7 linked regions of the Homo sapiens genome follow. The protein of the gene in region 1 purifies or fractionates together with the protein of each later gene. This does not show direct contact. Each region holds a gene or a part of one and is shown on either strand. Other genes may lie near its edges. The genes, in order: NXPH1, RNASEL, UBE3D, CNTNAP3, CTHRC1, SUCLA2 and YTHDC2.

Region 1 (4,273 bases):
AGTCACTGGAGATGGGATTTAGTTATTTGATGAAAAGGGGAGGTCGAGACGAGAGGAAGGTGGACATGTTTGCTGGAGTATCTCTGTCCTAACTCCGATTGCTTGCAGTACCCCTGATAGTTAAACTTATCCTGTCGGAACCCTTACAAGTCAAAGAAAGTTAACTGCGCTTCTTTATGTGTCTCATCTCCAAATCGGGGAAGTGGGTGGGTAGATTCACTTTTAAACTCACAGACCTGGGCAGATTTGTTCTTTCCACCACCCAACTACACCCCCACTTCCCTTCGTTTAAACTCTGTGCATGAGCTACTGAGAGTTCCTGCCTTCCACTTCTTCTCGTTGGCCCTCTATCACATAAAGCACCCCATCTCACTACCTCCTTGGGTTTAGGGTGTCTGGGGCGCCCTAGCCCCTTTCAAGAATCACGCGCAGGAGACTGGGGGATTGGAGCAGAAAATGGGGTGGGAACCCCGGAAAATCCGCAGGAATCCAGAGACCAGCTTGCCAAAGTTGCTCCAACACAGCTGCTAGGAAGCTGCTCTCACTGAACTGGCGGCGTAACCCTTCTCCCGCGTGTCCCCAGTTTCCTTGCCTCCCGGCCGGGGTAAAAATGCGAAAGCCCCGAACCTTCCAAGACTTACCAAGTAGACGGTGGGCTGCAGGAGGAAAAGCACGTACCAGCACGCAGCCTGCATTCTCCCGCGTCTCAAACTTCCTTGGCGGTGCCTTCTTTGAGTCTTTGTTCCTTCAGAAACATAGATCCACCTGACATCCACTTTACAGAGCAAGGAGCGCTCTCAGCAGCCTAGATGCAAATAAAATTAGACATCCCATGACTACGCGGGCAAGGTTAGGCTTGACAATCAAGCGGGGAAAGGGGGTCGTAGCGGGGAGTGGGGGACCAAAAAAAAAAGGGAGGGAGGGTACGAAAAATTGAAAAGCGAGTAAATCCAGCGCCTGAGACCAGCAAGCGCGCGGTCCGCAGCTGGGGAGGCGGGCGGGCGGACGAGAGGGAGGGTGAGGGGCTCCTTGCCCCCTGCGCTCCTCGGGTGCGAGTTCCCAGGCGGCGGAGCACACTGAGCCGCGTGCAGGCTGGTTCGGAGCCCAGGCTTCTCCGGCAGCGAGACCTGCCCTTGTGTTGGGTGGCCCGGCGGCTCGGACTAAAGGCGGCGGCTGGTTCTTCGCCAGCCCTGGCAGTGCTCACACACGTACACACCAGCAGAGAGAGATAGAGGGGAAAGATAAAGGGAGAGAGAGAGATTGAGCGAGGGGGGCGCGGTGAGAGGAAGAGGTAGGTAGAACTGACCGCGATTAGGTGCTAGGTACCTCAACACGTTCGGTGAAGTGGGGGTGGGGAAAGAGAATGCAATTTGCATACAGGAAAGCAGGGATCAGTTTACCCATTCGAACCCCTGGCGCACACAGAGATACCCACGAATGCTCACAGTCACATCTCTAGCACTACTTTTTTCGAGCCAAAGGGTACAGCCGGTCGCTAACTTCTAGAGAAGAAGCCTCCTCCGAGCTGTGAGGGTCACCTGCCAGGCTTGTTCTCTTTCCTAACCAGCGCCCCTCCCTGCCGTCCCTTCCTCGTGCCCACCACCCCGCTCCCAGGTGTACCCTCCGGGAACAGCGGAGGCAAAGGGTACGTACCGCACAGGACTTGGGGCGAATCCTGCGAGAAGGGACCGCTCTGGGCAGGCTCCATGGAGAAGCTACTCGGGCCTGGCGTCTCCAGCGCCCCGGACGTGCCCTCCCAGGCGCTCCGTCTCCATGCTCGAGCGCAGACGGGTCCGGCTGCCTCGTCCAGCTTTGGCGGAGTCGCCGTCCCAGTGCCCGGGTCGCGCTCAGGATTGGTTCGCGGGAGCCAAGGCTTGGCACAGTTGGATTCACGGTGCAGGAAACTTAAGAGGCAAGAGAGGGAGGGAGCAGTAGAGGAGGAAAGAGAGGAAGACAGAAAGGGAGGGAGAGCAAGAGGGAGGGAGAGAGGGGAATGCGCCGGGCTGCTGCACCGGACGGACTGGGACTGCCAGCGCTGGCACCCGGACGAACAGTCCAGGACTCTCGGCTTCCCACAGCTGCCTGAGGATGGTGGAAATGACTTAAGGGGAGGAGACTGAGCAAGTCCTCTGGACTTGAAGTGGAGAGATAAGACACTGGCCTTTCGGAAGAAAAGAGAACCACACGGCAGACGAGAGCAGTCCGAGTTTCTGAGGGAGGGGTGGGGTGGCGAGAATCTGGAGCCTGCGGCACACGGAGCAGCTGTACCTCTACCCGCGACGCTGGGAAGCCCAGGAGCCGGTCCCCAGTGGAGTCCCGGGCGCTGTCCCTGGTGCTGCCCGGCCACCCGGGGACGCTCTGGAGCGCTTTGGGTTTCCGGCGGCCGCGGTGGTCGTGGTTTCTCCGCAGAGCCGCGGCTTGGCACGCCTACCTTCCTGACACGGACAATTACTTTGGCACGTGGGTGAATGATTCCTCAAAGACTAATTAGTACCCTGTGTAAACAGATCCGGCTCTCAGGCTCTCGCGGGCTGGGCCCACAGGGACAAGTGGCTCCCGCGGTGTCTTCGGTGGCCGCAGCGCCCCCTTCCCGGGGGGCGTAGGGAAGATCGCAAAGCCCAGGGGAGTGGCGGGAAGAGCAGCCGGGAGTCGCGTAGGGCGGGGAAGGGCGCGGGAGGGTGCAGGGCGCCCCTGCCGGCCTCGAGCGCCGACGCCGGGCGCCTCCGACCTGTGGCTGCCGGGCCGGAGGCGGGGGAGCCGCAGACTGCCAGCCATTCAGCTCGAGACAGCCGAGAGGACTGGGCGACCTTGGCCTCTGGACTCCTCGCCGCCGGCTGGGCTGAGCGTGAAGGGGGAGGAGGAGGACGGGGGATGCTTCGAGCCGTCACCACCTCCCTCGCTACTGACACCTCCCACTCAACCAGCGTCTCCCAGACTCGGCCTCTGTGCTCCGACTCTGGCTGTCTCTGTCTTTCTCAGTCTCTCCCTTACTGTCCCTATTTCTCAGTATCTTTCTCACTCCCTCTCTCTCTCTGTCTCCTTCTTCTGTCATTCTTGTGGTCTGCGTCTCTGTCCCTCAGCATCTTTCTGCCTTTTTCTGCCTTTCTGTGTGTCTCACTCAGGATTTCTGACTCTAGGTCTCTGTATCTCTGTGCCTCTACCGTGTCCCTGCCATTCCCCCTCAAACCCTGTTTTGTTTTTTGTTTTTTTTCCTCCACCCTTCCAGTGCACCACCACCAGAGCAGTTTCACCAGTCTCGGGAGACAGCCAGGACCAGCTTCTTCTGGTGCTGGTGGGGTTGCCAGTGCTCCTTGAGCTTGCCCAAATTCAGGGCACAAATCGGAACCCGGAAGAGGGTATCTCTTCCCCAACCTTGCCCATTGCATCTCCAAGCCTGCCCTTCACCAGAGCCTCTCCTGGGGTGATGCACATATCCATATCAATCTGTAGGAATTGTATGGAAATTTATCTCAGGAACCTGAGTTAGTGACATCAAAATCGAATTGTGATATTTAATGAGTCTGGAATGTCCTTTCCTCAAGTGTGGCTGTGGACACTCTGGCAGGTCTGGGCCTAGATACAATGTACACTCTAGACAATAGGTCCCAGGCTGAATTCCCCTGGATGATGGAGACCACCCCTCAAACAAGGCAGTGACAATCAGCAGAGCCACCCAGTCCTGCAGCAGAGGCAAGAGGAGCCCCACTGAGACCTTCCCCTGGAATCAGATCTCCAAAGACCTCCAAATTAGATCCCCACTGTAGAACATACCTACCAGCACTTTGAGGTCTACACTCTCCCTTCCAGCTAAAAATAACTCTTTAAAGAGCAAGCTCTTCTAATCTTAAAAGTTGTACTCTGCTGCTGTGACCTCCTGGAATTCATTGGGGCATATGCAGAATAAAGCAGTGAAGCACACCTTCTAACTGTGTCTCTGAAAATCCACTTCAGAAAAAACGCACATGTACATATAGCATAATTACAATGTTTTCTTGACTATTTTCACTTACCAGCTATTTCATTTTCTTAAAAACTTTAAACTTTAAAGAAGAAAAATTAAAGTATTGGGGCACCCGTATCTGAGGCCAAATGGTCAAAGCAGGGGCAAAAAAAGCTTTGTCTAATTCCATCCTCTAGGATTCATAAGGCTATCCTAAAATTGATTCCTATTTGTACAGGAGCTCCCAGGCCTCCCAGACTGGAGTGTAGAGCTGGAGCAAATGTTGCCTGCCTCTATCTGGATTCCCAGCTACAATGCTGTCAGAGCTGAACT
Region 2 (3,500 bases), on another chromosome or scaffold:
GCAGGTGTCCCAGGGCAACTCCTTTCATATCACAGTAATGTCATCCTCTTTGTCTGTGCTTGTCACCCTCATAGATACAGAGCCATAGATGGCTCTCATATTTAGAAAGAGTTTGGGCTACGAGATCAAGATGCAACAGTCAAGAATCCAGTGGGTCACTTAGGAAGAGTAACTGATGAAAGAGCAATGCTAGTGAGGATGCTGCTGAGACTGGCCAGGTGCACTCTGTGCAGAACACCCGTGAGAAACGCCAAGCACGTATGTGTGGCAGGATGGGGCAAGTCAAGAACCAATACAGTCATACAAGCTGGAAAACTTGGGCTCCAGACCTATGCTGACAAAATTAATTGTGTGACCATGAAAATGGGCAAGTCAACAGAAAAACAAAGTGTAAAATGGGAATTAAAAGGTAAAACTTGAAGTTAAAACCTGAAGACTATCAAAATTCAATATAAGCCCATGGAATTTAGGGAAAAGAACCAATAAATTGGGAAATAAAAGAACAAGTTCCTCTTTCCAGGTCTGCCAATCTCTGACTGTCCAGCATGAGTAATTTGAGTGTGGTCTCTGAGCCTCAATTTCCTCAGTGAGTAAATGAGTTGGTAGACTTGATGCCATCACAGCTTCATGTAGTGGTGTGGCTTAAGCACATGGCCTCTGCAGCCATCCTTCCCAGCTTCAAATCCTGGTGCACCCCTTACTGGTTCTGTGTAGTTGGAAAAATTATTTGTCTGTGCCTCAGCTTGCTCATCTGCAAAATATAGATGATTGTCTCAGAAGTTGTGCTAAAGATTAAATGTGGTAACTCATGTAAAGTCTCAAGAACTATGGCTGCCACATAATCATAATGATACTACGTAATCATTAGCTATCACTATCATAGCTGCTTTCAAATTTCTTTGTTTCTACAAGTTAAAATTTTAGCCAAAGTTTGATAGACATTCATTTAGTAAAGAGTCATGGCACATCTACTCCATGCCAGGGATACAATAACTGACAAGACAATGGGTAGTCTCTGCCTTCATGGAACTTACAGTCTAGCAAGGAAAATGGACCGTAAGCCAGTAATTATGAGTGTGATGTGCAGTCTAGAGACCAGTGAGGGAAGGAAAGCAAAACAAGAATTAGGAGAAGCAGAGTCCCAGGTCAGGTCTAGGATAGGAAGCTGTTGGTTTCCAAGACCTGAAGATTATGGGTTCTCCCATAGTGCTTTGCACATGTCCCTGGGATGCCCAGCACACATCCCACAGCATCATTTCCATGGGCTTCTCAGCCCCACAGGGACACATTGTATTCTGCTTTGTATGCTCAAGGCCTTGCATGGGCCTAGCACATAATTGGTATTGTATAGATGTTTGTTAATTAATAATGAAAGTTCTGACAGTACTGACTAGATTGAGATGATGACTAATTTTGTAGAGTTCCACTATAATTAATGCAAGTTAGGTGGAACTTTTCTTAAAGAGAGCAATTTGAAAGATCATCTTTCCTTCATAGTCTATTTCCTCAGGCAGAATGTAGGTCTGTGTGTGGATCCTGAGAGCTGGGCTGTTTACAGGCAGTGGAGGCAGCCAGGCTGTACCTGGACTGAAACACCTCATGGTGAAGCACTTCCCTTGGATTAAGCTCTATTTAGTCAGCTGCTCGTGCCATAATGGCAATAGGATTATCAGCTAAGTGAGGGAAAGGCTCATGGGCTGGGATAAGGCCATCCAGGGGGAGCCTGAATAACAGTCTATCAGAGGGGCATGGGTCTGAATGGGAGAGAGGGAGGGCCAGCTTCTGAAAGTAGAAGTAGACACCCCGGCAGGGAGCCTAGGGGGATAGGGATGGGAGGGCAGGAGGCAAAATCACCTCTTTGAGCCTCTGGTTTGCCACTGGTGTAAAATAAGATAGAAAAACTAACATAAAACATTACACAAATTCTTATTCCTGGACTAACCCCTGCACTATAGGAATTGTTCATACCTTAGTCGTCCACTTGTCAAAACTTTTGGAATGTTCAGAAGGCCCAGGTTGCAGTAGTCTGAGGATCTCACTTTCAGATTTTCGTGTTTTGATGTCGGATTCATTTCCCACATTCCGAAGCGTCCTATAGCGGCTGAAGATGACTAAATGATCTAAATGATCATGATCATCCCATCCCTCCCTTTCCTTTTCCAGAAAAAGAAAACCGTTAGATTTTGGTGTTTTTTGTGCTTTCTTGGTTTTTCTTTCTTTTTTTTTTTTTTTTTTTTTTTTTTGAGATGGAGTCTCGCTCTGTCCCCCAAGCTGGAGTGCAGTAGCGCAATCTTGGCTCACTGCAACCTCCACCTCCCGGGTTCAAGCAATTCTCCTGCCTCAGCTTCCCAAGTAGGTGACATTACAGGCACCTGCCACCACACTCGGCTAACTTTTGTATTTTTAGTAGAGACGGGGTTTCACCATGCTGACCAGGCTGGTCTGGAACTCCTGACCTCATGATCCACCCGCCTCGGCCTCCCAAAGTGCTGGGATTACAGGCGTGAGCCACCGCGCCTGGCTAGATTTTGGTTTTTAATAAAAGTAATACAACCATGTCTTCAAAAATTCTGCATGATAGGAGAGGCAAGCATCTCTTTTTTTCCCCTCCTTATTCTTCAGAAATGAAAAGCAGACTCCAGAGAGGTTAAGTCATCTCTCCAAGGACACACAGCCAGTAAATCCCAAGCTAAGAAAAAAGCCTGGGTCTCCTGATTTGCAGCCCAGACTTCTGTCTGCACCACCTTACCCTTTCCATCCTGGAGGCCTGTGGCATCTGCACAAAGTTTTACTTACCTCTCCCAAGTCCAAAAGAAGGGATGACCCAGCAGGTCACTCAGACAGTCCCTCACATGTTCCCCAGGATGGAAGAGACGATGAATGAGGTCCTTAGTTTCCTCATCTGGAGAAAGTTGAACCACCTCTTCATTACTTTGAGCTTTCAGATCCTCAAATGAGATGCTTCCCTTCTTTACCACATAGAGGACCAGCCGTCCAAGGTCCTGCACAAAAGCCATAAATCAAGCCAAAGATGCTTACTAATTATTTGGGTAACCCTGGAAGGAGTGGTGCACGCTATTAGCAAACAAGATGATGGGAGGAATCTCAAGGAATTTGTAGGCTTGTTAGGGAGGGAAGGCACAGATGTGTGCATACAGACCTCTTCAAGGCAGTATATCGCCCATACCACTTAGTTTTATGAAGAGTAAAAGATACATATAAGTCACAGTTGTTAGGGCAGACTGCTTGGAGGAAGAGAGATTTGAGCTGGGCCTCAAATGTATGGACAGAATATAGATAAATTGAGGAAAGGGAGAATGCTTTAAACACAGGGAGAACTGACAGCCTGGCTGGAAACTGGGACTTTGGGTCTGAGGCTATGTCACGCAGCAAATAAAAAAGTCAGTCCAGGCCAGGAGAGGCAAAGTGATGACCCCAGGGATTAGGCCGTGGCCAGGAGGAAAGGCCAAGAAGAAGGTCGCCTAAGGAACTCTTTGCAC
Region 3 (3,500 bases), on another chromosome or scaffold:
AAAGTATATTTTTCAGGGTTTTAGATAAATATGCTTTCAGTAAAGCAATGATTAAAATCTTTTGTTCTTAAATGTTTTATGTTTTCTTCAAAACATCAAAAAAATTTTTTCTGCTTTAAAAACTCTTTTATCTTTGCAATGACTTGCAGATTAGGCACTTTCTTGCTCCTGCTGTCTTATGTAGATGGTTCTAGGACATATTATAGCTTTTATTCACATGATATATGGTCACATTAAGTTTAAAATATCATATTTTGTGTTAATGTGAGTTGTCTCCCAGATCTCTGTAAATCTTGGTGCAATTTTATTTCCCTGATCATGTAGGGGGTTTTGACATTGTTGTCTTTTGCACTGTATTGAGGGTTTGTTTATTGGCACTACATGCAGTATGTCAGGAGACAAAAGATCTTAATGATGGAGAAAGTCCAGGAACCTATTTAGGCCTAACTCCCTCCCACTCTAAACAGGCAATTTATTTGCCCTCTTCTTCTGCTGGTTCTTCTTGGTAAAATTCAAATCTGACCTGTTATTCTGTTTAAAATTCTGTAATGCTTCCTACCCACCTGAGGTACCAAGTCCCTACCCCTTAGCGTGGCCTGGAACACCCCACACAGTTTGCCACCATCCTACCTGCCCAAGTCTCCTCCTCTATGGCTGTTCTGCATTGCCAGGGAAGGAATATATTCTAAGGACCTGCCGTTACTGATCACTTCTGATTCTGTGAACTTAATGCAGATTTTTTTTTTTTTTTTTTTTTTTTTTGAGCTGGAGTCTCCCTGTTGCCCAGGCTGGAGTGCAGTGGCGCGATCTCGGCTCACTGCAAGCTCCGCCTCCCGGGTTCAGGCCATTCTCCTGCCTCAGCCTCCGGAGTAGCTGGGACTACAGGTGCCCGCCAGCACTCCCGGCTAATTTTTTGTATTTTTAGTAGAGACGGGGTTTCACCGTGTTAGCCAGGATGGTCTTGATCTCCTGACCTCGTAATCCGCCCGCCTGGGCCTCCCAAAGTGCTGGGATTACAGGCATGAGCCACCGAGCCCGGCTTAATGCAGATTATTGAACATTTCTGAGCCTCACTTTCCTCCTCTGTACAGGAAAATGGTATTTCCTGTCTCTCAAAGTTGTTGCGAGCATTAAATGAAATAAGGTGTGTTTAGTGGCCACCAAGGGTCTTTTTAAGTTAACTAAACATGTGGACTCACAAGGCTACCACAGGCCACATTCCTTGCCAGCTTGCCAGCAGGGCAGCATCAAGAATTCCTCTCAGCAGGGGCTCTGCATGTTTGCACAAATGACAGCTCACATACCTTTCTGGGGACTGTTGTCTCCCCACACGACGTAGTTCCAGGTACAAAGCCTAAGCTCCACATCAGGGAGGTACGGGAGCTGCCCTGGCTCAGAAGAAGCCTCCTGCCTTAAGCAGCCAGTATCTCTTGTAACAATTCTTGATATAGTTTGTAGGGTTCCCAAGAAGAAACTGCATTCAGGGAAGGCCAAAGTGTCCTATCAGACATTTACAGCTCATTCATATTTCTTCCTGGTTCAGATGCAGTTTACCAACCAAGGATCATTTTTACCGTAAGCAGTGTTGCCTAGCAATATTGTGGATGCCTAAGCTCTTACCTGGTTTCCAGGGTAACAGAGCTAGGTGGCTAAACCAAAGATCAGATTCTCAAGCAGCAAGGGAAAAGGTTTTTAACCCCTTAATTCCAGTGTGCAACAGACGCAACCAGGGGCTTCACACATTATAGTTATCAAAATACGCTAGTTCATTTCTTCAACAAATATTTAAGAGCTCATGATATACGTTAGGAGCAATGTAAGACAGTAGAAATACAGTGGCAAGGTAAACATATATGGCATCTACCTTCATATTGTCTCTTCCATGATGCCCTTAATTCCTTTCACTGCCTGGAGAACTACTATTTATCTTTCAAAGGCCAGCTCAGATGTTACCTCTTCTCTGAAGTCTGTGTACAATCTATTCTTGTAGCAGTTTGTGTTTATTGCCTTGAATTCATGGATTGGTCTTGGGGATCCATGAATCCCCTAAAGTAATATGCAGATTTTGTGTGCTTGTAGAAATGTACATTTGAGGAAAGAGGCTAACACTTTTCTTAAATATTCAAAGGGATCTGTACTGCTCCCCCGGTGCCACCGCCCACCCCCCCCGCCAACTGCAAGAATTTAGAACCGTTACTCTGTTACCAGCATTTATAACATGTGCTTTTGTTATTTGTTTGTAGGTCTATATTTCTTACTAGAACATGAGTACCTTAAGAGAGACGGACTGTATGTGTTCATATTTTGTGCCAGTAGAATGCCTTATTCATAGTAGACTTATAGGAAATGTACGTTGAAAGAATCACTTCTCAGTATGCTTAACAGGCTCAGCACTTTGATGATACCAATGGTGCAGCATATACTAATTTCAAAGGAAAAGTTCTTCCTTATGTTAAACTAAAATCAGCCTTTCTTGTTTCTAGCTTTGTCCTCTGCAGTTATAAATTGTGTACCCTCTTCTGAACTGTAATTGCCCTTTTATGCAACTCAGTTGATTGGGGAAATCAAAGGAAAATGGTTAACATGGGGGAATTGTTAAAAAAAAAAAGTAGCATTCACATTTTAAATGTTTTAACTTATAACATCTGAATGTACATTAATTTACTAGTATTTGTGTTTTGTTAGAAGGAGGAACTTAGCATATATCACCTTAACGAAGTTATCAAGATTAGCATCACTAAGTTGTGTTGATATGATATATTCTCTGATTTGATGTGATGAGAAAGGTACATTTCACTTCTGTGAGATTCTTTCCCCAAATCCATACCACCAGCCTAATCTTGAGACAATATTAGACTAACTCAGATTGAAGAATATTCTGTAAAATACCTGATCTTTGCAAAAATCTCAAGTGTCTGAAAAATAAGGAAATATTGAGAAACTGTTATAGACCAGACGAGACTAGGGAGACATGATGACTAAATGCAAAGTATTATCATAAATTAGATCTTGGAACAGAAAAAAAGGATATTAGTGGAAAAACAGGTGGAATTCAAAGTGTGTAGTTTTGACAAATCTACCATGGTACCATAAAATAGTAAGTTTAGGTCCATCTGGGTGAAGTGTATATGGGAACTAATACACTACCTTTGTAAGTTTTCTGTAAATCTAAAGTTATTCCAAAATGAAAAGTTTACTAAAATATAGTAATAGAAGAAATTATAGAAGAAAGTTGTTAGGTGATCTGACCATTAAGACACGTAAACCAAAATAAAAGGCAGTAACACCAAAAAAATTTGTAACAGATTAATAAGCATGAGGCTAATACTCTTAATATAGAACACATTTTTACAAATTAATAAGAACATAATAATACCACCCTGGAAAATAGTCACTAATCACAATTCACAGAAGAAACACAGTAGACTATAAGTAGCAAAACTAGATGAATCTCACCAGTAATTTAAGAGTTGCCAGTTAAAGCAGCATTGAAAATACTT
Region 4 (4,164 bases), on another chromosome or scaffold:
TTTCACTCACTGCAAGTCTATGGGCACTGAAGTTAGGAAAATATTTCCCTTCATGCAGAATCTTCCTAACAAAGCTTTCCCATGTATTTGTCGGGTCAAATAACATTCAGATAAACTGCACATAATCCCCAAAATGCCAAATGTTTAGAAAGCTTTTTTTTTTTGAGACAGAGTTTTGTGTTTTCCTCTTGTTGCCCAGGCTGGAGTGCTATGGTGGGATCTCGGCTCACTGCAACCTCCATCTCCCAGGTTCAAGCGATTCTCCTGCCTCAGCCTCCCGAGAAGCTGGGATTACAGATGCCTGCCACCACGCCCGGCTAATTTTTGTATTTTTAGTAGAGACAGGGTTTCACCATGGTGGCCAAGCTGGTCTCCAACTCCTGACCTCAGGTGATCCACCCACCTCGGCCTCCCAAAGTGCTGGGATTACAGACGCGAGCCACTGTGCCCGGCCTATAGAGCTCTTCCCATGAAGAGCCATTTCATGCCATCATCAACAGGTTGCCTTCGTGGGTGGCCAATGTGCTTCTCGAAAACCAGCTGTGAATAACGTGAGCAACTCATGGTGTCTACATGAGAAGGAAACTTTTAGATGTCCTTATTGACTTTCTTCTTGGTATTGAAGGTGGTATAATTATTACAGTTACATAGTTTTATCTGGAAGAATTACTTGATCTAAAAGGTAATTTAAAATTAGTAAAATTTATTAGATATGAGGATACTAAGTTTCATCAACGAAAGAAGACTGAAAACACCCACAGTAGTAGTATTGAAATTTCACGTGTCACTCAGCAACTCGCGAGAGTCCCGTCTGGTGCTGAGTCCATTTGGAATATCTGTCCCTGCCCTCCCCTCCTCCAAAAAGAATGTTCACTATAAACGAGAAGAGCTTAATTTCTATGGGCTTTGTAATCCTTCCACTGGATTCCAAGCAAAATAACTACCAATACAACTAATCCTGAGAATAAAAAGTAATCACAACTATGCAACAAAAACAGGAAAGGTGGTGGCAGGGTCTCACTCAGATTTCATTGCTTTGCTTTTCTCCAGGAAGGTCTTTTTGAAGCCCTGTTTATTCAATAGTAAGAGTGACCTCTAGTGACTTTTTTTGTTGTTGTATTTTGCCAGTTGATTGGTCAATTACTCTAGCATGCCTTTCTATAAGTAGCTCATTTATATGTTTGTTTAAGCCAAACGGCAGTTTCCATTACAAGACCCAAGGATTTTGATTTAAGTAACAACGTTTTATTCACAAAGCCTTCTCACAAAAGCAGATTAAAGTTGAATCTGAAACACGGTACAGCATCTGACCAAAGGAATCCGGAGCTTGTTTTTTGGAAGGGCACACCAAGTGTAGGATTAACTGAGGCGCAACTGAATCATGATGCACAGTGAGTTCATGAACCCATGTGCGTGCCCTGTGTGTGAAGAACCAACCCACCCTTGAGCCCGCGGGCAGAACAGCACTGAGCTACGGCAAACTTTTCATGACAGCTTAGGAGAACTGCTGAAAGCTACCCTTGGTTATCCTGCAATAATCTAAATTTCCAAACATGGCCACTGGCGTTTATTGGAACTTATTTCGAAAGAGATTTTGGTAGGAGAGGGCTGAGGCTGACAGCGGGGAGATGCCACTGAAAGAAAAATAAAAGTGATTTGAGAAGGAAGAGGAAGACATTTTAAAAATTCTAATCTCATGGTTTGATTAATCAAGAAAGAAAGACAACTCTCTGCTAGAGATTTACTCCAAGCCAAAAAAAAAATGTGCAATGTTGTGTAAACATTTTTATGTGTGATAAAATATGGGTACATTATGTTTTGCTCATCTGTCTGGAATATCATCATTACATTAGAATCATAGCCCATTCTAGAAATAAAGGCTTCCTAGGTGTTTACCAAATTAAGGAAAATAAAAAACAGGGAACCTGATGGCAAATTAAATAATGTAAAATATTAGCATCCAGAGAGGAATCATTTTCAAGATCACCTAAATGACTGGCTGAGTTTTGTCTTTAAGCAAGAACTTTCTACTATGAGAAACGAAGCCCCTGACAGGGGTGTTCAAGTGTTATTCCCTTAGTAGTTAGGACAGGTTATTAATTTAGTTTCACCTACAGGCGCTCTGTCCCTATACTGCATGGAAGTTAATTAGCATTTTAACTCTGAAGCTGCCAAGGTCGGCAAAACTGTAAGCTGCTAACATCTAAGTTGATGCAGTATGATGTAATGTCTGCCAGTTTTTTCCCTGTTAGACTTAATTCCTACAAAATATTACAATCCTAAAAAGGAATAAATGACAGCATTTGCACGCTAATCTCTTATTAAGATGCTTTTCAGGTTTTACAGAAACGTCCACTTTCTCAATGAATATTCAAGTACATCGATTAAAAAGTCAAAACATGCATGGTATATCTTAGACTCCCCCACAAGAGGAAAGTCTATTGTAAACAAAATCGTCTTTTTCGGGTTGCAATTCCAAATTTTTTTTAAGGTTCTTCATGTTCAGGAGCATGTTCTGCAATTCCACTTCCAAATATTACCGATAATAAAAAAAAAAAAACAAAGTTTTCCAGACAGCCTAGCGCAAGTTTTAAACCATTTGCTGTACTTACGTGGATTTCCTGCTCCCACGGGGCTCCAAGTCTGAGTGGGGAGAAGCAGCAGCACCTTGAGGACGGCCCAGGCCACTGAAGCCATGCTCACTTCAGCCAGGCGCCCTGAGACCCGGGCACGGCGACGGCCGCTCTGCGTCGCTCCTGCTCTCACTCCCGTCCCCTGCGCGGCTCTGACGCTGCTCTGCCTCCCCTGTCCAGTCTCTAGCTCTCTTCCTCACGCACCAGCAGCCTCCCTCGGCGCTGCAGACCCTCCCGCCAAGCCGCGCCCGGCCCCAGCTGCGTCTCCGAGGTCGGCCCCGCGGACTCGCGCCGCAGCTTTCTGGAGCGCTCGGGGCCGCGCGGCGCCACCCCAGGCACGGAGGCGGCAGGTTCAGGCGCGTCCCGGACACTAGGCGCGGGAGGCGGCCGGCAGCAACGCGAGTCAAGAAGCGAGCGGGAGGGACGCCCCAGCTCCGCCTGGCGCTCTCCTCCCGTTATACCGGCAGCTTCCTCCGTCCCTCTCTCCCACCGGGGCGGGGCGGCCGCGGTGCACGGACTCGCGCCAAAGACCGCGCCGTCAGCCTCCGCCTGCAGGTGGAGAACGCCAGGCTTTATCACTGCGCTGTTCACCCAACGCAGGGGCTGCACCCAGGAAAATGCTGTCCTGTTTGAGTTCAAATAGGGAAGATGGGGCAGAAATAACTCTGCGGCGTGTACTTGGGCAGACGCGCGCACACTTTGATTTTGCTAGGAATTCTGACTTGTAGAGAACCAAGCTGGGAAACCGGGCCAGGAGCAGGGAGAGGCCGGTGAGCCTGGGTTGTGCGAGTGCAAGCCTTTATTTAAAGTTTTAATATTTTGTCTATCATGGGTTTTTTTTTCTTTGCGATTACATTCAATTTTAAAACTATTTCATTCATTCAGGATTAGCGTTACTTAACAGTTGCTCCTGAGACTAGTGCGTTAGTCCCTTCACCCTAGTCCTGGCCTTGGTGGAAGTCTAAAATTTACGTTTTATTCCAGCTTTCTGTCCAAAAGAGCAACCCCTGCAAGTGTAGGATGAGGAGCTCAGTCCAGCAGCAGCTAACACTGCACTCCTTGCGCGCCTACTGTGTGCTAGAGGGAGGGGCGGAGGCAGGGGGCGGGGGGGGGGGTCTTTCTCTTTTTCTCTTCCTCTGCTTCTCAAATTCACAGTAGGGGCAAAGATTGACAAACTCACTCACATTACCACCACCGCGAGTTTCCAAAAAAGAAAAAAGAAAGAAAGATACTTTTTTAGATGGTATCTCTAAGAAATAGTGTATTAATCTTCCCTTTAGAAAGACAACTTTGAAAGGCTTTTTCATTAAAATGAATTCAAATGTAATAGATGTAAAATGTAAAATGAATTCAAATGTAATAGATGAAGAATCTTACAAAGTCATTCTTGAATTATTAATTGGGTTCACTTAAACTACTTTTGCACAAGAACTCTGTAAATAGCACGTCTTTTATTACAGAAAAAATTATAAATCTAAAGTTTTGATTGACAGATCAGTTGCCTTCAGTGAGACAGAAAGAGAGAAAATGG
Region 5 (3,500 bases), on another chromosome or scaffold:
CTCTGGACTTTCACCTACTAACAATACAAGTTGCATTCCATCTTACCAAAGTCTTCTCTTAAATTAAAAAAAAAAAATCCCTCAGTCATTTTAGCAGGCAAAAAGACATGGTACCTTTGATGTATGTGTAAAGCTGGAGAAGAAACTGTAGGTTGGCAGATTCAAGAAAATGAATCCTGGTTTTCTGTCCTTGTGATAGTTTGCTCACTCATAAGTGGGAATTGAACAATGAGAACACTTGGACACAGGGCGGGGAACATCACACCCCGGGCCTGTTGTGGGGTGGGGGGCTGGGGGAGGGATAGCATTAGGAGAAATACCTAATGTAAATGGCGAGTTAATGGGTGCAGCAAACAAACATGGCACATGTATACATAAGTAACAAACCTGCACGTTATGCACATGTACCCTAGAACTTAAAGTATAATAATAATAATACTAAAGAAAAAAAAGAAAATGAATCCTGATATAGTGGATGACTTTATGTGACTGGTTAGGCTTCCTATTTGATTGAGGTTAGTGCATTCCTGCTGAGACCCAGAGATGTAGGTCTGAAGCAATCTGCTTACATAAACTATCACAGGAGTAAATCCAGAGCAAGTCTCTCAGAATCCAGGGACCTGTCTCTGGTTCAGTCCCCTTCCCAAGTTGGGGGAACTAAATAGTAGGCCCACAATCCCATTTAATCTGGTATTCTTAGTACCATGCCAAGTGAAAATGCCTACAAATGCTCATGTTTTCCCAGGGTCTTGACAGCCATGGCCTAGAAACTTGTTCACTTCCCCCTACGGCCTAAGGACGTCAGACAAGCTTGGGTCTTGCATCAGCCTCATCTGAGGACAGTCAAATGGTCACTTCATGGTCTTTAGCAGATGAAATAATGTTGAATGAACATTTTTGCTGTGATAATGTAGTATGATAGCTTGTTAAGTAAAAACGATATGTTGGATTGGGAGTTCTCAACCTGTTTTCCTCCTAGACCATGTAACAGATGACAACCATTTGTCAAACTCCCATGGGCATATCAAGGCTTTAAGCCATCCTCTGATATGCTAACTATAAGTGCACCCCTTTCCTTTCCCTTAAGAGAGACTATCAGTATGTCAGAAAAAGTGATTCTGTTACAGAGGTAACTTTTAATCCACAATAATACAAAAACTGTTATTAATAACAAATTACTTGTGACACTCCACCCAACTGATCACACCAAATGAGTTTGCACACAATGGTTGGGAAATGCTGTGTTAAATTATTTATAAAGTATATGCGTGTATATGACACAGTTCCTGGGCCTAAGGGCTTACATTAGCAAAATATTAACACACACCTTAAAGATAACAGAATAGAATGTAAGTTGCTTATATCAACGACTGTCTGAACATATCACTTCCTAATCAAATTTTATTTTTAATATCTAGATTCTTCTTATTTTAAAGACTATTTCTTAGATGGGAAGCACTTCTTCCTTTCCAGCACATGTATCTAAGTACTTAGTGAAGAGGGTTTTTAATCTGATTACAAAGAGAACTGGGAGCCAAGAGAACAGGGCGTTGGTTTCTGCTCTCCTGAACGCTGATTCTACTGTCCCGTGTAAGACGCTGTATTTCCCTGGGTTTCTCAATATGCAAAGAGAGGGGGTTAAAATCTCTTCTTTATGTTTCAAGGATATTGTGGGGATCTGAGGGAAAATGTGGAGGGGATGCCCTTGATTGCTTAGGAATAAATTGGTTTTGGGGTTCAGTACCTGACTTGGAGCCCTAAAGAATGCTGAAATGTTATTTTGAGGGAAGGGAAGAGTGAGATTATCTCCTCCCTCCCCTCAACCATTTTTAATTATAAGATTAGTGAAAAATCTCTTCAGGAAATCAAGGAAATGATGCTAACCATATGTATAGTTTCTTATTTTTCTTCTATGAAAAGGCATATGAATATAACAGTATGTACACTTTCTGATGCTACCATGGTGTGCCATCCACTGCAACTCAAGAAACCAAAATGGCTGACAACAAAATATTGATAGTGGTGTCTCTGGAGGATGAGATTAATAGTTTTTTTTTTTTTTAACTCTTCTATTTTCTGGTATTTTCTAAACTTTCTTTAATGAATCTTAAAATAGAACAAACAGGCCAGGCATGGTGGCTCATGCCTGTAATCATGGCACTTTGGGAAGCTGAGCAGGAGGATCACTTGAGGCCAAGTGTTCAAAGTTGCAGTGAGCTGTGATCCTGCCAGTGTACTCCAGGCTGAGCAACAGAGCAAGACCCTGTCTCTAAAATAAATAAATAAATAAACAAATACATAAGTACATAAAACAACCCAATGATATTTTTCTGACAGTTTAAGTGACCACTGAATGTCTTTTCCTCATACTAGGTGGAAACAGAATACAGAAACAGTATAAAAATTTTGTCTTTTACAAATTCAGCAGACAGTATCCACCCTTTTAAAGGATAAGGCAGAAAAATCAGTCTCCTTATTAGTCTGAGCCAGTGGTTCTAAATTTTGGCTGAACATTAGAATGACCAGGAGATTTTTTTTTTTTGAGACTGCATCTCACTCTGTCATCACTCAGGATGGAGTGCAGTGGGGCAGCCTCAGCTCACTGCAACCTCTGCCTCCTGGGCTGAAGCCATCCTCCCACCTCAGCCTCCATAGTAGTTGGGACTAATTTTTTGGTATTTTTTTTGTAGAGATGGGGTTTCGCCCTCTTGCCCAGGTTTGTCTCAAACTGCTAGGCTCAAGTGATTGCCCGTCTCAGCCTCCCAAAGTGCTGGGATTACAGGTGTGAGCTACCACGCCCAGCCTACCAAGAGATACTTCGAAAGTCCCATTGCCAAGTCTGCACCCAGACCTGTTAAATCTGACTCCCTGGAAGGGTGGGATAGGCATTTCTTTTTAAAGTTCCCAGAGTTCCTACAGTGAGCCCAATATGTAGCCAAGGTTGAAAGACCACTGCTCTATGGCATTATTGGCTATTTTGCCATGTCATTTAACTCACTGATTTTCAAGCCTGGGGCACATCTGAATCACCAGGGGATCTTTTAAAAAACACAGAAGCTGTGGTCTTACTGCTAGAGATTCTGCGTTAGTTCATCAGAGATAGGGCCCAGGCATCTATGTATTTTTAAAAGATCGAGAGGTAATGCAGAAGTACAACCCAGGGTGGAGAATCATGCATTGAAAACTTGCTAGAGGTCCCTTTACAGTAGGCTAGTGAACCAACATGATAGTGGGACTCAAAACTAATCTTACTTAGATCTGAGGCACATCTTGCAATGTCACAATTTTACATACCAGAAGAAGTGCGATGAATATTAATTGTTGAATTCATTTCAGGGCTTCCTTGGTCCAAATAAATTATAGCTTCAATGGGAAGAGGTCCTGAACATTCAGCTCCATTGAATGTGAAATACCAACGCTGACAGCATGCATTTCTGCATTTTAGCCGAAGTGAGCCACTGAACAAAACTCTTAGAGCACTATTTGAACGCATCTTTGTA
Region 6 (3,500 bases), on another chromosome or scaffold:
AGCTCCGTCTCCTGAGTTCATGCCATTCTCCTGCCTCAGCCTCCCGAGTAGCTGGGACTACAGGCACCCCCCACCACGCCCAGCTAATTTTTTGTTTTTTTTGTATTTTTAGTAGAGACAGTGTTTCACTGTGTTAGCCAGGATGGTCTCGATCTCCTGACCTCATGATCCGCCCGCCTCAGCCTCCCAAAGTGTCGGGATTACAGGTGTCAGCCACCACGCCCAGCCCTACTTTTCACTTTCTTAACCTAAGTTCTTCTTCTCTTGTTGGTATTTTTTTAAATTTGCCTTAAAATAGGCTTAAATGTAAAAGGCTTAAATGAGAAAGCAGCCACATGATATAATAAAGATCTGTAGCAGGGCATCGTGGAATGCACCTGTAATCCCAGCTACTTGGAAGGCTGAGGCAGGGGAATCACTTGAACTTGGGAGGCGGAGGTTGCAGTGAGCAGAGATGGCACCACTGCACTCCAGCCTGGGCGACAGAGCAAGACTCTCAAAAAAATTAAAAATAAAAATAAAAAATAAAGATGTGTATTTAAAAAAAATCACACGAAGTAAAATTAGAATTCTTAAGCACATTTTATAACTATTTCAGGTAAAGTCAAAAATTGACACAGGAAAATGTCCCACTCATTTGCAGAAGACTGCAGTTGTTTTACCAGAAAAATAAAAGTAGTAAATGTGATTTATTAAATAGACTTGACTCAGACCAAAAGTACCCAACAGGCACTAGGCAAATGTTAAGAAATCTAATTTAACAAAGGTATCACACAGAGAGTAGGTACTTGAATTCACTTTCTGGCAAGCCAACCCCATAGAAGTTACCTCCCGGAATCAGGATGTGAAAGGTACTAAAGACCAGTAGAACCTATGATACATCTCCTAAAAACAAGTCAGTAATAGAAGTAATTGTTTTCTGTTTTGTTTTAGTTTTGCTTTGCTTATTCTTTTTTTTTCTCTTCAACTTTTAAGTTGAGGTGTACATGTCCAGGATGTGTAGGTTTGTTACATAGGTAAACATGTGCCATGGTGGTGTGCTGTACAGATCATCCCATCACCCAGGTATTAAGCCCAACATTCACTAGCTATTCTTTCTGATGCTCTCCCTCCCTCCACCCCCACCCCGACAGGCCCCAGTGTGTGTTGATCCCCACCTTGTGTCCATGTGTTCTCATCATTCAGTTCCCACTTTTAAGTGAAAACACACGGTGTTTGGTTTTCTGCTCCTGCATTAGTTTGCTGAGGATAATGGCTTCCAACTCCATCCATATCCCTGCAAAGGACATAATCTCATTCCTTTTTTATGGCTGCAGAGTATTCCATGGTGTATATGTACCACATTTTCTTATCCAGTCTATCATCGGTGGATGTTTAGGTTGATTCCATGTCTTTGCTATTGTGAACAGTGCTGCAGTGAACATACCGATGCATGTATCTTTATAACAGAATGATTTATATTCTTTTGGGTATATACCCAGTAGTGGGATTGCTGGGTCAAATAGTATTTCTGCCTCTAGGTCTTTGAGGAATTGCCACACTGTCTTCCACAATGGTTGAACTAATTTACACTCCCGTCAACACTGTAAAGGCATTCCTTTTTCTGCAAAACCTCACCAGCATCTGTTGTTTTTTGACTTTTTAATGATAGCCACCTGAGTGGCATGAGATGGTATCTCATTGTGGTTTTGATTTGCTTTTCTCTAAAGATCAGTGATGAGCTTTTTAATCACATGTGTGTTGGCCATATGTATAGTTTTTTTTTTTTTTTTTTTGAAACGGATTCTTACTCTGTCGCCCAGACGGGAGTGCAGTAGCACAACCTCGGCTCACTGCAACCTCCACCTCCCAGATTCAAGCCATTCTCCTGCCTCAGCCTCCCAAGTAGCTGGGATTACAGGAACTCACCACCATGCCCAACTAATTTTTTTATTTTTAGTAGAGACAGGGTTTCACCTTGTTGGCCATGCTGGTCTCAAACTCCTCACCTCAGGTAATTCGTCCACCTCGGCCTCCCAAAGTGCTGGGATTACAGGCGTGAGCCACCACACCCAGCCTGTGTCTTCTTTTGAGAAGTGTCTGTTCATGTACTTTGCCCCCTTTTTAATGGGGTTGTTTGCTTTTTTTCTTGAAAATTTGTTTTAAGTTTCTCATAAACTTTGGATATTAGACCTTTGTCGGAAGGATAGATTGCAAAAATCTACTCCCATTCTGCAGGTTGTGTGTTCACTATGATGATAGTTTCCTTTGCTGTGCAGAAGCTCTTTAGCTTAATTAGATCCCATTTGTCAATTTTTGCTTTTGTTGCAATTGCTTTTGGCGTTTTCATCATGAATCTTTGCCCGCGCCTATGTCCTGAATGAATGGTATTACCTAGATTTCCTTCTAGAGTTTTTATAGTTTTGAGTTTTACATTTAAGTCTTTAATCCATCTTGAGTTAACTTTTGTATATGGTGTAGGGAAGGGGTTCAGTTTCAATTTTCTGCATGGCTAGCCTGTTCTCCCAGCACCATTTATTAAATAGGAAATCCTTTCCCCATTTTAACAAAAGCAATTTCTAATGATTAGTTAATTCCCATGCATGGGACATTAACTCAATCACAAGTGCTCTTTGTAGTTTAAATAGGTGACTAATTTTTGTTGTTCAACAGAGATCTGTCCACAGGGATTCCCAAAAACATGGCTATACCCCAAAAAGTAACACCAACCAACTCTACATTGGTCTAATGTGATAATATCAAAGAATTTATAATGTCTTCGGTCAAACAGTTTTACTGGTACTACAGTATTTTTAACCTGAATTATAACCACGTATTATTAGTAAGCAAGTATTAAAATAAAAACATTTTATCCTCAACAAGACCTAAATAGTTGTCAGGAAATTCAAGTTCATAAGATGAACTCAAATTTGATCCTTTTCCCAAATGCCTTAAACATATCTTTAATAATACATATTCAGTATCCTACCTTTACTACAATAAAGATGAATTACTATGGATAGAACTCCTATCTCAATTCATCCAGGTATTTATACCTTGTTTCTGGCTACTGTAACAAAAAGTAAAAACATAACTAACAAAATGACAGATGCCGATATATAATGTCAATGAAAAGAAAAATAAAATGTAGTGAAAATAAGTGAATGTGTAAAAATATAATTTATGTAAATTTTGGGTAATATATGAGGTTACTGTCATGGGATTTTTAAAATAACTTACAAACTAAATTCTATCACATAGAATATCACTTAAGAATAAAACAATGCTTCTTAATTTTATATTCTGAGTGGATTTTTACTACCATCTAGTGTTATATCTTTAGAAATACTTCCTTATAAAAATTAAAAGTTGCAAAAGACATATCATTCAAACATTAATAGATTTAATTGTAAATAAGAAAAATCACAATACAGAAAGTTGTTATTTTTAAAAAAGTTGTTCTACATAAGAAAATTATTTTCATGACTCTTAAAATTTTTGTTACTCTAAATTCTACACAA
Region 7 (3,500 bases), on another chromosome or scaffold:
AACCCATTAAAAAGTGGGCAAAGGACACGAACAGACACTTTTCAAAAGATGTACATGTGGCCAACAAACATATGAAAAAAAGCTCAACGTCACTGATCATTACTGGAATGCAATTCAAAACCACAATGAGATCAGAATTGCTATTATTAAAAAGTCAAAAAACAACATGCTGGTGAGGTTGTAGAGAAAAAGGAACACTTTTACACTACTGTGTAATTAAATTACACTAGTGTAAATTAATTCAACCACCATGGGAGACAGCATGGTGATTCTTCAAAGACCTGGAGGCAGAAATACCATTTCTGGGTAAATACCCAAAGGAATATAAATCATTCTATTATAAAGATAAGTACATTTGTATGTTCAGTGCAGCATTATTCACAATAGTAAAGACATGGAATCAACCCAAATGCCCATCAATGGTAGGCTAGATAAAGAAAATATGGTACATATACACCATGGGATACTATGCAGCCATAAAAAGGAATTAGATCATGTCCTTTGCAGGGACATGGCTGAAGTTGGAAGCCATTATCCTCAGCAAACTAATGCAGGAATGGAAAACCAAACACCGCATGTTCTCACTTATAAGTGGGAGCTGAATGATGAGAACACATGGACACAGACAGGGGAACAACACACACTGGGGCCTACTGGGGGTGTGTGGTAGAGGGTAGGGAGAACATCAGGAAGAATAGCTAATGGACACTGGGCTTGATAGATACATGATGTCATGATCTGTGCAGCAAACCACCATGGCACACCTTTACCTATGCAACAAAACTGCACATCTTGCACATGTACCCCTGAACTTAAAATAAAAGTTGAAGGAAAAAAATGCATTATGCCACTTCAATGTGATATACTATTTTGCAGTCATTAATATAAAATACTAAAAATATTTTTGATATCTCTGTAATGAAAATAACAAAATATAAAATAACAGTTTGGGTGAAATAATTTAAAATATGTAAACATGTAGAAAAAATATAACATTAAAAAGTGTTAGCATGAGAAAAATGAGATTATGGGTGGCTATTATTTCTTTTACAATTAACTTTATTTACGTTAAACTATCATTTAAATTCAAGTGGAAAAGAAAAATTTCTTCCCAACAGCAAGATTAATAAAAAATGCACAAATAAACATCAAGTTACCTTATAAATAAATTTCAAAAACAGTAGTATACCTTAGTATTTCCTAATTAGTCTTAGTACATCAAAATAGAGCTGCTACTATATAAATCTTTATAATTTCATTATTTGGTTTAGTAAAATAATTTCATTATTTGGTAAAAAAAAAAAATTCATTTCAAATAGATTTTTATTTCCTTAATACATTTACCTCTAAAGGATGAAGGTTCCTGAAGAGCATTACTTGCCAATCTAGCTGGTCCACAGAATACCAATATAGTGACAGGCGTCACTGCTGAACAACATCTAATATTAGCTATTCTATGGGCTCTGGTCATTTCATCATAAATAAGCCAATCTGTGGGCAGTGCCTTAATTGCTGCAGCTTGACCATTGGCTGGAGGAATCTATTAAGAAAATAAATTTTAAAAATTGTTAATTGTGTTTATCACCTAGTTTATTGGAAATACTTTTAAAATGTAAAGTCTCTCAATGAAATAGATGATGTATATTAGTACGTAAGCAAAAATTAAAACAAGTCATCGCTCATGTAGTTCGTACAAAAGTACTCATTACTTAACATGTTACCTTTTCCAACTCTAAAATTTATAAGTTTTGTTCCAATATTTAATGATATATATATATATATATATATAACTAATTAATTTCTTAAAGCAGGCAGGTATTTGGAGCATTTTTCATTGATAGTGAACTACCTAAATTAGTTTCACCTCAAAACCCAACAGCATTCAAAATCTTTTACCTTTTTATATTGAGGCTGACTGAGAACTGAAGCAGGATGAAATCGTACTTTTTTCTCCTTTGGCCCTGTCAACACTAGATTCTCTCTGTCCACGTGGACTAAATTAGGATACATGCCTGCCACCAATGCAGCTTTAACGACAGCCCAATTCTCAGAGTTTGTGTTAACGTCCCGAATGTCACCACCACCTCGTGCTCTAACAAAACCTAGAGGGGAAAAAAACCACACCAATTTTTCTATTGTGCAAAAGATACTTTTGTGTATTTTTTCCAAAAACTTGTACAACTCATGTAAATTTTGTGATATTCAAATTTCACGATAATTAATAGAATCTCCTCTGGAAAGTTGTTTAAAATATGAACCACCCCTCCCCACCCTAAAACAGATACAGAACCAACATTCTAGGGAAGTGTAGATCTGCTCAGGTTAGATTAAGTATAAGAATCACTTGGGGCTTAAATTTTTTTAGATCCACATTCTTGCAATAAAGTTCTTCATAATCTGCTGCCAGAAACAAACTAAATTCATAGCTGGAAACCCAAACCATTCTTCTGACTGTTATTAACAACATTTTGGTTATGATAGATACTAATTCTGTAGATGAAGTCAAGTAAATATATGGTAATTTTTGCTTGAGTTTCAAAAGTCCTTCATATTTCCTTATGTTCAAGTCAACTCTTAAGTCCTCTGGTTCATTCCTTATATTACTCTGGCACTTCAGCTAACCCATGAATCCAGGCTCTGGTACTATTCTTCTGACTACCACATCAATTTTTTTTTGCTACTCAAAAAGGCAATTCTAAAAGGTAATAGCAATACTAGCATCCTCTTCAAAAAAAAAAAAAAAAAAAGGTGACTTCAAGTATTACTAGCTGTTTTTGTGTTCCAAAAATATGAAGAGCAGCATTCATATCAATTTTTTAAAATTTCTATTTCACAGAACTAAATAAGTATTCATTAATGGTGATAAAAGAAAATAACTATAAGATCTAAATTGATCTCTGCCAACCAATACAAATTGTTCATTGCCAACAGTATCACAAGCATATAGATTCTGTCCCTAGATTTCTCAAATACACCTCCTGCAATAGCATTTTTTCATCAACAAGCAAAAGTTGAAGACATATCGAAGTCTACAAATCATGCATGAATATAAGATACACAACATGATAATGTCATAAAAATAATAGATGGCATCAGTTAACATAAGAAATACTATGAAATATGGGCAGGGTACTCTCAGTAACTTAAATAGGCTCTTTGAGGGAAAAACTTTACCTGATGCTCTAAGTTGACCAAGCAACTGTGTTCTCATGCCTATGATTATTTCCATAGTAGCCTGTGAAAGAAAATTCTTTTCACAAAAGGCTCGCTCCCACCCATCACTTCGTGCTTTTTGCCAGGCCTATAAAAAGAGAATAATTGCATAACAAGACACATTTACTAATCGCTTCTTAGTGAGGCAACAAGTAACTACAAATCACTACACGAATTCCTCGACGTGAATTTGCCTTATTCTAATTTTCTATAAAATCTAAGACTTTATGATCAAATAATATTTATCATTAATTTATACTCAAATGCTAAAAAAGCCATTGAGTTTA

What was found.
Region 2: the proteins of NXPH1 (region 1) and RNASEL purify together in Homo sapiens (affinity purification with mass spectrometry; one large-scale study listed by BioGRID and IntAct). This does not show direct contact.
Region 3: the proteins of NXPH1 (region 1) and UBE3D purify together in Homo sapiens (affinity purification with mass spectrometry; one large-scale study listed by BioGRID and IntAct). This does not show direct contact.
Region 4: the proteins of NXPH1 (region 1) and CNTNAP3 purify together in Homo sapiens (affinity purification with mass spectrometry; one large-scale study listed by BioGRID and IntAct). This does not show direct contact.
Region 5: the proteins of NXPH1 (region 1) and CTHRC1 purify together in Homo sapiens (affinity purification with mass spectrometry; one large-scale study listed by BioGRID and IntAct). This does not show direct contact.
Region 6: the proteins of NXPH1 (region 1) and SUCLA2 purify together in Homo sapiens (affinity purification with mass spectrometry; one large-scale study listed by BioGRID and IntAct). This does not show direct contact.
Region 7: the proteins of NXPH1 (region 1) and YTHDC2 purify together in Homo sapiens (affinity purification with mass spectrometry; one large-scale study listed by BioGRID and IntAct). This does not show direct contact.

The regions. Positions count from the first base shown.
Region 1 is NC_000007.14:8,432,136-8,436,408, reverse strand, and holds the start of NXPH1 (neurexophilin-1 precursor), read right to left. Parts: upstream 2,801-4,273; 5' UTR 1,654-2,800; intron 806-1,653; 5' UTR 696-805; coding exon 642-695; intron 1-641. UniProt on the Homo sapiens protein: May be signaling molecules that resemble neuropeptides and that act by binding to alpha-neurexins and possibly other receptors.
Region 2 is NC_000001.11:182,579,257-182,582,756, forward strand, and holds part of RNASEL (2-5A-dependent ribonuclease), read right to left. Parts: intron 3,003-3,500; coding exon 2,797-3,002; intron 2,102-2,796; coding exon 1,969-2,101; intron 752-1,968; coding exon of another isoform or gene 698-751; intron 1-697.
Region 3 is NC_000006.12:83,045,342-83,048,841, reverse strand, and holds part of UBE3D (E3 ubiquitin-protein ligase E3D), read left to right. Parts: intron 1-3,500. UniProt on the Homo sapiens protein: E3 ubiquitin-protein ligase which accepts ubiquitin from specific E2 ubiquitin-conjugating enzymes, and transfers it to substrates, generally promoting their degradation by the proteasome.
Region 4 is NC_000009.12:39,285,368-39,289,531, forward strand, and holds the start of CNTNAP3 (contactin-associated protein-like 3 isoform 1 precursor), read right to left. Parts: upstream 2,801-4,164; 5' UTR 2,698-2,800; coding exon 2,613-2,697; intron 1-2,612.
Region 5 is NC_000008.11:103,378,038-103,381,537, reverse strand, and holds part of CTHRC1 (collagen triple helix repeat-containing protein 1 isoform 1 precursor), read right to left. Parts: coding exon 3,295-3,500; intron 1-3,294. UniProt on the Homo sapiens protein: May act as a negative regulator of collagen matrix deposition.
Region 6 is NC_000013.11:47,984,274-47,987,773, forward strand, and holds part of SUCLA2 (succinate--CoA ligase [ADP-forming] subunit beta, mitochondrial precursor), read right to left. Parts: intron 1-3,500. UniProt on the Homo sapiens protein: ATP-specific succinyl-CoA synthetase functions in the citric acid cycle (TCA), coupling the hydrolysis of succinyl-CoA to the synthesis of ATP and thus represents the only step of substrate-level phosphorylation in the TCA.
Region 7 is NC_000005.10:113,565,694-113,569,193, reverse strand, and holds part of YTHDC2 (3'-5' RNA helicase YTHDC2), read right to left. Parts: intron 3,302-3,500; coding exon 3,175-3,301; intron 2,103-3,174; coding exon 1,897-2,102; intron 1,541-1,896; coding exon 1,345-1,540; intron 1-1,344. UniProt on the Homo sapiens protein: 3'-5' RNA helicase that plays a key role in the male and female germline by promoting transition from mitotic to meiotic divisions in stem cells.